2 separate regions of the Homo sapiens genome follow, and region 2 is linked to region 1. Evidence: fine-mapped expression QTL. Tissue or cell type: aorta. Region 1 holds a variant in brackets; the other region holds the start of a gene. All regions are shown on one strand. Distances are from middle to middle.

Region 1 (5,554 bases):
TTTTATTTTTTATAAATACAATTATATTTATAAAAATAAATACTTTTATTTTATTTTTATAGATGGAGATAGAGACGGAGACAGATTTCTCGCTCTTGTCGCCCAGGCTGGAGTGCAATGGTGCAATCTCAGCTACTGCAACCTCTGCCTCCCAGGTTCAAACAATTCTCCTGCCTCAGCCTACCGGATGGCAGGCGCTTGCCACCATGCCCGGCCAATTTTTGTATTTTTAGTAGAGATGGGGTTTCACCGTGTTGGCCAGGCTGGTCTTGAACTCCTGACCTCAGCTGATCCGCCCGCCTCAGCCTCCCAAAGTGCTGGGATTACAGGTGTGAGCCACTGCGCCCGGCCTATTCTTTCCGTTTCTGGTGGCCGCTTATACAATGTGAGGCACAGACTGCCCAAAAACAACCTGTCCCCAGGCTGGGCTCTCCGTGGTCGCCTACATGGGTGTGCCCATTCGATGATTTCTAGGGTTGTGGATAATATTCAGTTTCTCACACACTCGACAGAAGATGAATATTTATCTTGGTGCAACAGTTGAAACAGTAAAGATTCTTGAAGAAAAAAATCCCACATTCACACAGGCCTACAGTTTCTCAGGGGTGGACTGGATATTTACAAGCATGAATACGCTGGGGACAGCACCTGAGTAGGAGGAAGAGCCTCCCAGCTTCCTGGGCTCCACAGCAGCCTCCTTCTAGGCCGGGTTAGATGGGCAGAGGGCACATCCTTATGGCTTCCACACGTCTGGCAGGAGCAGAGGTGAGAGCCCCGTCCATTGAGAAGAGAACCCCCTGCCTTCCTTGTTTCTTGCCACCCCAGATCCAGCCAGATAGGCCCTGGAGAAAGCTCTCCATGTCCAGACCTCTACAGCTAAATCACACACCCATTAACCAAAGCCCTTTCTTAAATTAGCAGCTGAAAAGAGGCCCACATGATCTGCAGCCCCACAGCCCTCTGGCTTTGGTGATGGGGAAGCACTCAGCTGGTCTCTGCTTAGCTCCTGTCTATCAGGACATGCAGCCATGCACGGGACACGGGCACTTCCCATCTGGGCTCCAGATCAGACACAATTAACAGAGAGGATTAAAAACAATGTTGGAGGAAGAGGTGCATATATAAATGTGTGTCACCAAGCACTTTAACATAGCAGAACAGAAACAGCAGCGTCTGTATTTTACAATCAAGGATGAAAACATAATTGGTCAGACACTGTGAGTCTTTTAAAATAACATTTTATTTTTCGTTGTCAATGATTAACTTTTAAGTCTATTAGAAGAGTATCATGATTATAGTGAATAAAAAAATATAGATGAGAGAATACAAATATTAGGTTATACAAAGTTAGTTTTTTAAAAATCATTGTCCACCAAAATTTTCAGGACTTTGGAGTTCTCAAAAAAAAAATGTGTGTGTGTGTGTGTGTGTGTTTTAACACTTCCAGCAGTTAAAAATTAAGAACACATATGGATAATCATTGGTGGACGCCTATTATAATAAACGGAAGGACCACAAAAATTAAAACAAGTTCTAAGAACCATCATATATACAAATTTCTGTACAGAATGAGGACAAAAACAATTCACCCAATTAAAACCAGCTCTTGTGGTACACATACTCTTTTTCAGAAAAGAACGAACACTTATCTTCCTGTATTCATTTGTTTTTCCATTTGATTCAGTATTCTTAATGCTGTTTCCACCCCATAAATTAGTAACTGTTCAATAGCTGAGAAATATCCTATTTTCAATTATGCAGGGGAAATCAGGAGCTTCCCTGGAGGGGTTGAACTTCATGGTCTGATGTAGGTTGGAGACACACCTCAACCAACGAAGTCACACCACCGGCTGGAACAAGGAGGGGCTGGATACAACATCCCATGACAGTGAGGAGGATTCTTATACATCATCACTACACAGCTTCCTAAGAGTGATGGCCTAGCCTCTCCTACTTGGCTGAGCTCAGAGCAATTGAGCTCTTTGCAAATGCAAGTCATTTGGCACAAAAAGAAAGAATGTTTGGGCAAGACTCAGACTCTCTCAGAGCCAGACACACTCAGAGGCCCCCAACTCTGATAACTACGATAGCACATCCCGGACCCATATCTACCTCCCAGACCCACCTTGCTCCATGACGCTAAAGGCCACTCACTCCATGGTGAGAACTGAACTCCTTTGAAGAAAAAGCAGTCGCACGAAATGTTAACATCACAGGCCCAATGAGGTAAACAGCAGACTCAGGGGACACAGAAGGAGAGGGCATGGAGATGGGGAGGGGCAGCACACTCTTTCCAGAGAGGCTTGCGACGTCACTGCACGATCCC[G/A]GAGTCCACCGATGCCTGCTTGCGAGTTGTCTTTGGAGGGGGAGGAGGCGGAGTTTTGCTGGGCAGTGGAGGTGGCAGATGCTAAAAAACATGAGGATGGGGAAGATGTCACATAACTGATGTCCTGACAGAAAAGACACCGTCTCCAGGTGGGGTCTGACCTGGCACAGCCACTCAGCCGGAACCATCCTCCCCACATGAGTTGGGCTCCATCCTGTCCGACTTGGGGCTGGCAGGTCTACTAGGCTCAAGACTGGGCTGCTATGGGCCTGGGCCTTTCTGACGCCTCTGAGCACTCTCCCACCGTCTGCACAGCCCCTGAGAGGTACCATTGCCCTTTGCGTGGCCTTTTTAAATCTAGATGCTATCGACCAAGTTATCCATCTATTGTCTAAGGGATAAATAAGTCCTTAGAGGCACTCTCCAGGGGTGAGATGAGAGACCTTCTTTTGCTTTCTGAGCTTCGGGCAAAGGTTAGCAAGCTTCTCCTGGAAAGGGCTAGACAGTACATATTTCCAGCTTTTTGGCAGGCCACACGGTCTCTGTTGCAGCCACTCAATGCCACTGGTGTGGCCGAAAAGCGGTCATTGACAGTGTGTACAGAAAGGGGTGTGGCTGTGTTCCAAGAAAACTATTCACAGAAACAGGTGGCTGGCTGGCTGGCTTCAGCTCATGGGCATATATTACTTTAGATTCCAAAAAAGAACATTAATTTCCAATGTGAAGATAATAGCAAACCCCTTGCTGATGGACCTGGCTGGAGTGTTATGACTGAGGGCAGCTGCACCCTATTGCTTTTGGGACCCTCATGCCCATCACACACACCTGATGTGCAGGAGACTCTCTAGAAATATGGGTCAATCGAATAGAAAAATGGATGAATGAGTGAATAAATGAATGAGTGAATAAACGAGTCAGTGGATAAATGAAGAAATGAACAGGTAAGTAAACAAATGAATGAAGAAGTGAACAGACCAGGGTAAGTGGGAGCATGCCACAGGCAGAAGAACCAGAATGAAATCACAGAACACTATCGTCTAACTTAAGGGTAAGAGTGGATTTTTATCAGCCTCTCAGTGTGGGTTTGCATTTAGCTGAATGTGAGAAAAGAGGTTTTCAAGGATAGACAGTGACGCAGTAGTCTCTCACTCATCGCCCAGATTTCCTCCTGATTCACAGACTAGTAAATACAAAAATGACCTAATGCTTAACACAGAGAGGAGAATAAATGTGGAAAAGTAAAGCTGATATAAAGATGTCCTATGAGTGTATGACCTTATATTAAGGAAGGTAAAACAACAATTAAGTCTTTTTAAGGTTGGTTAGAACCGTTAAAAGAGACATCTATTTTGAGGTCTGATGAAACTGTTTGTTTACATGTGAAAGCCACACTCACTGATAGGCCAATGAGGAGCAGGTAAGGACCACACTAACACAGCCTGATACCAACACAGCGCTGCAAATGACCTCTATGCCAAGTATGAGCATGTCAAAAGTTTATCACCATTAAGCAAAATGATTAATGGTGATAAACTCAGTAAGCTCAGATTACTGACAGGAAGAGCCATTTGGAAAGAAATGACAGCTTAGTGGCAACAACTAAAGACAGAGTTGCCTACAAGCCTGAGGCTGATCAATGAGAGTGACAGGAGGATATTGATCACACCCCCATCATGGCAGATGGATGATCATTATCCTAGAACAGCTCTCAGGGCCTGTGCAAAGGGAGGCACCCCAGGAAATGCAACCGCTTCTGCCTAATGATGACATACTAACCACCAGCGTGTCACCTGAGCATGCACTCAGGCTGCAAGTAAATTAAACAAGAAACAAAGACCAAAGACACCTGGGTCATTAATCTAATTGAATTCACACGCCCTTTATCAATTGAGAGAGAGCTAATCCATGTTATCCCTTACTTAATCAACTGTATGTGGCATCAGTAACCCACAATGGTGTATCCAAGAAATTGAGACAATAAAATGTTACCCCGGAGTTGATTTGTAACAAGAAGAGGAATTGGCTGTAATTCTAAGTTTAGAATTTTCAGTTTACTAGTGTAGGGAGACTAGGGGGAACATTCCTGCCTTTGCAATAAAATAGAGAGAAGAGAATGTGACCAATTAACGAAGCTGTTAGGGAAACAATACTCCAAGCAACCCAATATTCTTGTTAGACCCCCCCGAATCTCCTTTTACTCTCACAAGTAGTTAGAAATGGCCGGGGAAGGTCCGGCTTCCATTTCTGTGGTGCAACAAACCATTCCAGCCTGCCAGAAAGCCCTCTTCACAGGGGAACCTGGTGCCTCCTCCAGGACCGGTTCCCCATCGAGGCGTCTCTAGGGAGAGGGAGCCTGTTTAAATGGCACTTGGGTCTCAGAAGAGCAATCTGCCTCTTTGATATTAAAGATGACTGCTTGTTTAGTTTTCTGATACAAAGGGAATGATGAAATACGTATGCTGTACACAAACACCCTCTCTCTTCCACTCCTCTCATAAGGGATGTAATGACCTTGTGGAACACTCCGTCAACGAGTCTCCATTAAAAAAAAAGAAAAAGAAATGGCACGTGGGATTTATATTGTTTATTAAAGAAAAATAAAAAAAAAAACCATGTCTCACCATTATGAAAAAAACAGAGCCACCCAACAATCTCATGTTTTCAATGTTCTACAGGAGTTTTGCGGCCATATAATTACTTCACTAAGGCTGGATAGCAAAAAAAATACGGCCAGCTGTCCACATATGAAGAGGGATATTTTACCCTTCAGACACCACTGATTTAATTGTCAAAGGCTGTGAATAACATGGCCTGGGGAGGCCTGAGCCTAGAAGCAGAAGTTCCCGCCGTGGCTGAGTCAATCGCTCGCCCGCCTCCATCCCACTCATGCTGCCCTCCACACATGCCTGGGCCCGACATGAGGATGGGGCTGGGACCCGCAGGGATGAGTGACGCCTGACAGCATCCTTGAGAACCAGGAGAGGAACGGGGTGGATCTCAAAAGAATGTTTCTAGAACTGTCAACTGGTAACTGAGGTGCTTGTTTAAATGGCTTTTCATGACTTTGACTAATATTTGTACGGGCAGGCAGGCCCAGGGGCTGTTTGGCACAAGGCACTTTGGGTGGCATGAATGACTAAAACAGCTGCTGGGGGGTACCAGCTTCAGGGACTCACGCTGAAGAGGGGTTCCAGCAGGTTGCTTAGGCTTACAAAGGCCAGTGCTGCT
Region 2 (5,554 bases), 550 kb after region 1:
CCAGGTCTCTCTGGGGGCAGACGAAGGGTAACAAGGTCTCTTAAAATGTGGCGTCCCAAAGAGAAGCCCTCCCCATCTGCAGGCAAGCACAGGACACTGTGGCAGCTGAACCCAGGGCGGCCACACTTCACACCCAGGAGGCACCACTTACTGGTGATGTGACCTCAGGCAAGCAATCCACCTCTTCCTTGCCTCTGTAGAATGGGAGCAGTGATGGCCCCCACTGCACCCCGATGGCCCCCACTACACCCCCAATGGCCACTACTGCACCCTGGCCATGGGCACCTAAGTTGCTTCCTCAGCAGGGCCAGGGCTATGGGATGCCTGCTCCTCTGCCAGCCTCCTGCCTCTCCTGCCTATCCACCTCTTCCTCTCTCTCTGCGTGTGCTGGTGCTAGGTTCCCTGGGAGTCAGTCCTCAGCTCTCTCCTCTACACACTACCCCCGCAGGGACCCCCACTGTCGCCACAACCCAAGCATTCTCAGGTGGAATATCCACCCCGAACCTCTCGCCTCTGATGCAGACTGAAGGCCCGTGCCAAGTGCCCCAGACTGAATCCATTAGGTGGTGCACAGGGTGCAGGTTACACACTGAGTCTGCAGTCAGATGAGCTCTCCTGCACTTTTGTGAATGTGTCTGGGCCTCAGTTTCCTCATCTGCAAAATGGGGAGATGGGGAGGAAGCTCAGTCATAATGGTCCTGAAGCAAGGAGGCCCCCTATGCCTCCCAGCATGTGGAACAAGCTAAGTGCAGGCCCGGTAGGACCCAGGGCTGTCCCAGGACTGTCCCCGTGACCACTGTCCAGCTGGCTCCGTGGTCAGGGCATACTGTAAGTCATTGACAGCAGAGAGAAGCAACTGTTCACAGAAAGGAGAGCGCTCCGGGGACAAGGGCTGCCAGGGCGCTTCCCAAAAGTCAGAGAGCCAGGATTCGAACCACACCAGCAGAGGGTCGGGCAGGTCCAGCACGGGCCAGGCACAGAATGGGCGCGGGGCTGCTGCTGAGACGGTGCCCTTGGAGGACACAGCCTGGGCTGTGGGAGGCGAGACCACCAAAGGTCTTCCCAGTCGGGTCGAGTGGCCTGGATGAGGCAGGCGGTCAAGGATGTCTGTGGATGGTGGGACGGGGAATAGCAAGCCCGAAAACCAACTGGGAAGATCCCGGACCCGGGAGAGCAGGAGAGTAGCCACGGCCCAGTCCCGACACCAGGCGCGCAGATCACGAAGAGGTGGGCGTCCGCAGGCCTCGGCGACCGGCTGCGGGTCCCCGGGGCGCAAGGATGCGGGTCCCACGCGGACGGGCCCGTCTATTCAGCCGCAAGGGAAAGCCTCCCTCTCAGGAATGCGCACTCGGGTCCGAAATGTAAACTTGCAACCCGACTCCTTCCATCCCCCCTCGGAAGCGACAAAGAGCCGCGGAGCAAAAACAGGCCCCCGCTCTCCCGGAAGGGTCTCCAGGCCTGGGGCCACTGGGGCGCTCGGCCGCTCGCCTTCTCTCCAAGGTCCCACACGGTCCCCAGCGAGACCGCCGAGGGGCAAGGGGCGCTGGCCACCCAGGTCGCGCCCCCTCCTCCCCGCCGGGAAAGGGCGGAATTATCCGCTGGGACCGCGCCGACCTGAGCCCGCCCACCCAGAGCCCGGACGCGGGACGCAAGTTCATCCAAGAAGCAGAAGCCGCCGCGAGACAGTGACCCCTGGGCTTCCCTGACGGGCCCAGCCGCGCAGATAGCAGCGGCCGGGGCCGGGGAGTTGGGGGTAGCCCGGGGGGCTCCACGGCAGAGGTCCAGAGGAGCGGGCGTCGGAGGGGACACCCTAGGGAGGGACGCGCCCGCCCCCATTCCCACCCCACCCCCTCGTGTTCCCGACCCGCATCCCCGGGGCTGGAGCTGACGCCGCCGGGGGCGCGGGGCGGCCGGGGTCGCCGGGCATTGCGAGCGGGGCGGCGGCGCGGGCGCGGGCGGAAGCGCCTCTCCCCGGCCCGGCGGCCGCTCGGGGCGGCGGCAACAGGCGCCCGGCACACCCGCCCCGCCGGAGCCTGGGCTTGGGGCGAGAGGCGCGGCGGCGGCGGCGCTGCTCACCCACGCCGTACTTCTCCTCGCGCTTGGTGGGCACCCAGCGCGTCATGGCGCCGCCGGAGCCGCCGCGGGTCGGGCAGGAAACTCCGCGTCTAGGCCGCCATTTTCCATTCCTTTCGAGCCGCGACAGGATGGGGAGGAAAAAGTTTGCGGCGGAGGCGGCGTCATGTGGGACGGGGCGGGCGGAGCGTCGCGGGCCGGATGGGAAAGGCCGGGAGCGCCGGCGGGAGGCGGGACGGCCGCGGGCTCTGCGCCCGCCCTCGGCGCGGACCCTGGGCCCCGACCCCGCGGTCGCCGGGGCTCCCCTTCCTCTGTCCCAGTGCGCCCAGCCCCGCGCTCCGCACCCGGGCACCCCCGCGGGGTTCTCCTGAGTTCCTGGAGCTCCCGGGGCTGGCGCTCACGCCGTGAGAGGGGTGCGCCCTTAGGGGGGCGGGACGGACGGGGGGTTTCTACGGGAGGTAGGAAACGGGCGGCTTGCAAGGCGCGGGCTTAGGCCGGAGCCTGGTGGTGCGAGGTCCCCAGCTCGGATTTCTCCCTGGTGGAGAGTCCCGGAGCAGAACAAACCAGCAGAGGCTCTGGAAAGGGTCCTCCTGAGCACGTGGCTCATTCATTCATTCGACAAACGTTACCTGAGCGCCTGCCCACTCATTGCCCGAGTGTGCTGGGAGCGCCGCACCAACTGCCTGGTAGGTGGGAGAAGGGACACGTCAGGTAACAAACAGCACAGGTAAGTGCCGGCCACTCAAATGGGGTGGAAAGAGGTGGCACAGCGCTGCCGAGGGAGTGCGTTCCAGACAGGTGACCTCTTGCTTGGGTGCTGAATGAGTGGAGTTTTCCAGAGAGACCAAGAGGAAGCAGCCGCAGAAACCTCAGCCCAGCTGGGCTTGCAGAAGCTAATGCTAGAATAGTTGTGGGACTCAGGATCTGCTGAAGTCGGGGGAAGAGAGAAGTAGGGAAAGGAAAGCCCAGGCCACGCGTGGGGCTCAGGAACGGCATCCTCGCCCGAGGTGGGAGTTCTTCTCAGGCCCTGGTGTTTCCCATGACAGTAAAAGGTGGGGGCTTCAGATTTCTCCAAGGGAAAAGTTAAAGCAACACACACCTATTTATTTTTACTGTAATTTCAGAAAAGAGAGGTTAAAACCAAGACATGGACAAAGCCTCCGAATGAAGGCAGCCCTTTAAATGGAATAAATTTGGTTTCATGGCACATTAATGGGGTGTCTTCTCTCCGAAGACACAGAGACAACTACAGTAGGTCTGGGGGCCGTCAGGGATTGGAGGAACGAAGGTAAGAAAAGGAAGAAGGTAAGAAAAAGAGGTCCCTACCTCTGTGAGGTAGGGACAGTGCTGAACAGCAGGGCTGGGAGAGCCCACAGGGAGGTGGCCAGGATGGCCACAGGGCCTGGGGAGGACCAGGTGGGGCACCATCCTGCGGTAGAGAATGCCCGTCACCTGCCCTAGGGGCCACCCAGAATGCAGATTAAATAAGTATTTGGGAATGGCACAGGAGCTTTTCCATTTTCGTGGGTTAGAGGAAAGCTGCTGCGTTCAAGAGGATAACGTGGGACCTGAGCATTCTGGTAAGTCAACCCCACATTCATGGAAAGCCACGGGCTCTGTTTTACTGATAAGGAACTGAAGTCCCACAGAGGAAGTGGCCAGGCTCACTCACACACAGCATGCACTTGAAGCTTTCTGTGGAAATCAGAAACCTCCGGGGCTCAGGCGCTGTAGTGGTGGCCTGGTGACTCTGACCCCTTGAAGGAGAAGCATCTGTGAAGGTGCTGTCCAGGACAAGTAGGGTGCTCTACGGTAAAGGACATGGTGGCCTGACCTGCTCCAGAGCAGGGAGGCCTCCCTTGAGGAAATAAGATAAACCCAGACTTTAAGGATAAGCAGAAACCAGCTAGGTGAACTGGAGTGGGAACAGCACGTGAAAAGGCCCTGGTTTAGGAAGGAGCACCACTCCTTCAGAGCACAGAAAGGCCAGGATGGCCGAAGCATAGGGAACAACAGGAAAGTGACATAAATTGAGGCTGCAGAGGTAGAAGAAGGGCCTTATTGGTCGTGCTAGGAATTTGGAATTCTGCAAAGAAGCCTGGGAAACAGATTTTGGTGACACTCGCCTTCTCTTTAATGTGCAGTTTCAGTTCTGTTGGTGTGATTCTGCATTGGAGATGGCGTGCTGTAACGAATGGCCAGGAGCTTAAGAGTCATGCAGACTTGGGAGGCCTGGCCTTGCCACGCCCAGCTGCATGGCCATCCTCCTCCTGTTTCTGGCCGTTCTGTTTCTAAACCTTGGGGTTCTGATATTCCTACATGTAAACTAGGGGCTGTAATAGGAATCTCACAGGTGAGTCTTAGGATTATAAGAGGAGACATGACTGCATGTGTAAGACATCATAATGATGTGCTTCCTCATCTGACCCTACCTCCAGGTTCTTTGATAACCTCATGGTTCCCATTTTCTAGAACAGTTGCCACTTGCACTCAGATAAAGGTGACTCACTGAATGCATAAATAAGTGTAGTGCCGGATTTGCATACTTTTGGTAGACTGTCATATAATAAATTTATAAATCAGAATTTTAAAACTCCAGGTGGGGCCGGGCACAGTGGCCCATGCTTGTAATCCCAGCCAGCATTTTGGGAGGCTGAGGCAGGCAGATCACTTGAGGTCAGGAGCTCGAGGTCAGCCTGGCCAACCAGGGTTTTAGTAGAAACCCTGTCTGTACTAAAAATACAAAAATTAGCTGGGCGTGGGTGCGCATACCTGTAGTCCCAGCTACTCAGGAGGCTGAGGCAGGAGAATTGTTTGAACCCAGGAGGTGGAGATTGCAGTGAAGCAAGATCGCACCGCTGCACTCCTGCCTGGGTGACAGAGTGAGACTCCATCTCAAAAACAAACAAAACAAAACTCCAGGTGGACCACGGGCCAGGTGGTTGTAGCTTCAGTCCCTTGATTGCAACATGTGCCCAAGTTTGGCTGAGATGTACCTGTAGCCACGGTCCTTGAAGCCCTGAGAAGATTTGTCAGCATCCCCACGGTGCTCCAGCAGTGCTCTCATCTTGTGGCTCTAAATCGAGTCCATGGCCCTCTCTCACTGTCCTATGGTTGCATAAGCTCAGAACTGGCTTCGTCTCCAATTCCAGGAGCCCTGGAGGTTGTGGCCTGTTGACATTTTTACCTCCTGAGTCAATGTGGCTGGGCCACAGGTCTCAGTTGCCCTCCCAGGCATCTTGCAGGACTTGGATCTGTGCCAAGCTTGTGGGTGTGAACAAGCCCAAGAATGCTGAGGCTCTCAGTTGCTCAGTGCTGCCCATCACTGGGATTTCAGAGTAGTGACCCCCCTCCTCCAAGATACAACAGAATCTTGCTTTGGGGCCATGAAGAACACAATCAATATTACAGTTTTAAATCTTGAAAAGTACAGTTTTAATTTTTTTAATTCCAAAAAATTTCACACATGTGCACTGCAAAT

Which allele goes with the higher level. Alleles are on the strand shown, and positions count from the first base shown. SD is a standard deviation of normalised expression in the study named.
For the expression in aorta of the gene that starts at base 2,212 in region 2, G is the high allele of the variant in region 1 and A is the other (small effect, 0.25 SD a copy in GTEx).

The links. PIP is the estimated chance that this variant, and not a neighbour inherited with it, causes the effect.
Region 2: it holds the start of DOCK1, and the variant in region 1 is fine-mapped to the expression of DOCK1 in aorta (GTEx, PIP 0.98). The same link has a PIP of 0.9 or more in esophagus muscle.

What each region holds. Positions count from the first base shown.
Region 1 is chr10:127,448,185-127,453,738 of GRCh38, reverse strand. It overlaps DOCK1 (dedicator of cytokinesis 1), which reads right to left. Exons shown (of 52, transcript NM_001290223.2): 52 at 1,223-2,407. The coding sequence ends at 2,312. Among named protein-coding and RNA genes, the nearest start is that of NPS, 98 kb to the left of the region's middle. The variant G/A (reference allele first, on the strand shown) is at 2,327.
Region 2 is chr10:126,902,086-126,907,639 of GRCh38, reverse strand. It overlaps DOCK1 (dedicator of cytokinesis 1), which reads right to left and starts at 2,212. Exons shown (of 52, transcript NM_001290223.2): 1 at 2,077-2,212. The coding sequence starts at 2,122. LOC105378550 (a long non-coding RNA gene) reads left to right here and starts at 2,262. Exons shown (of 2, transcript XR_946449.3): 1 at 2,262-3,080; 2 at 3,198-5,554. LOC124900289 (a long non-coding RNA gene) reads right to left here and starts at 1,909. Exons shown (of 2, transcript XR_007062336.1): 1 at 1-1,909. RefSeq lists an enhancer at 443-1,191.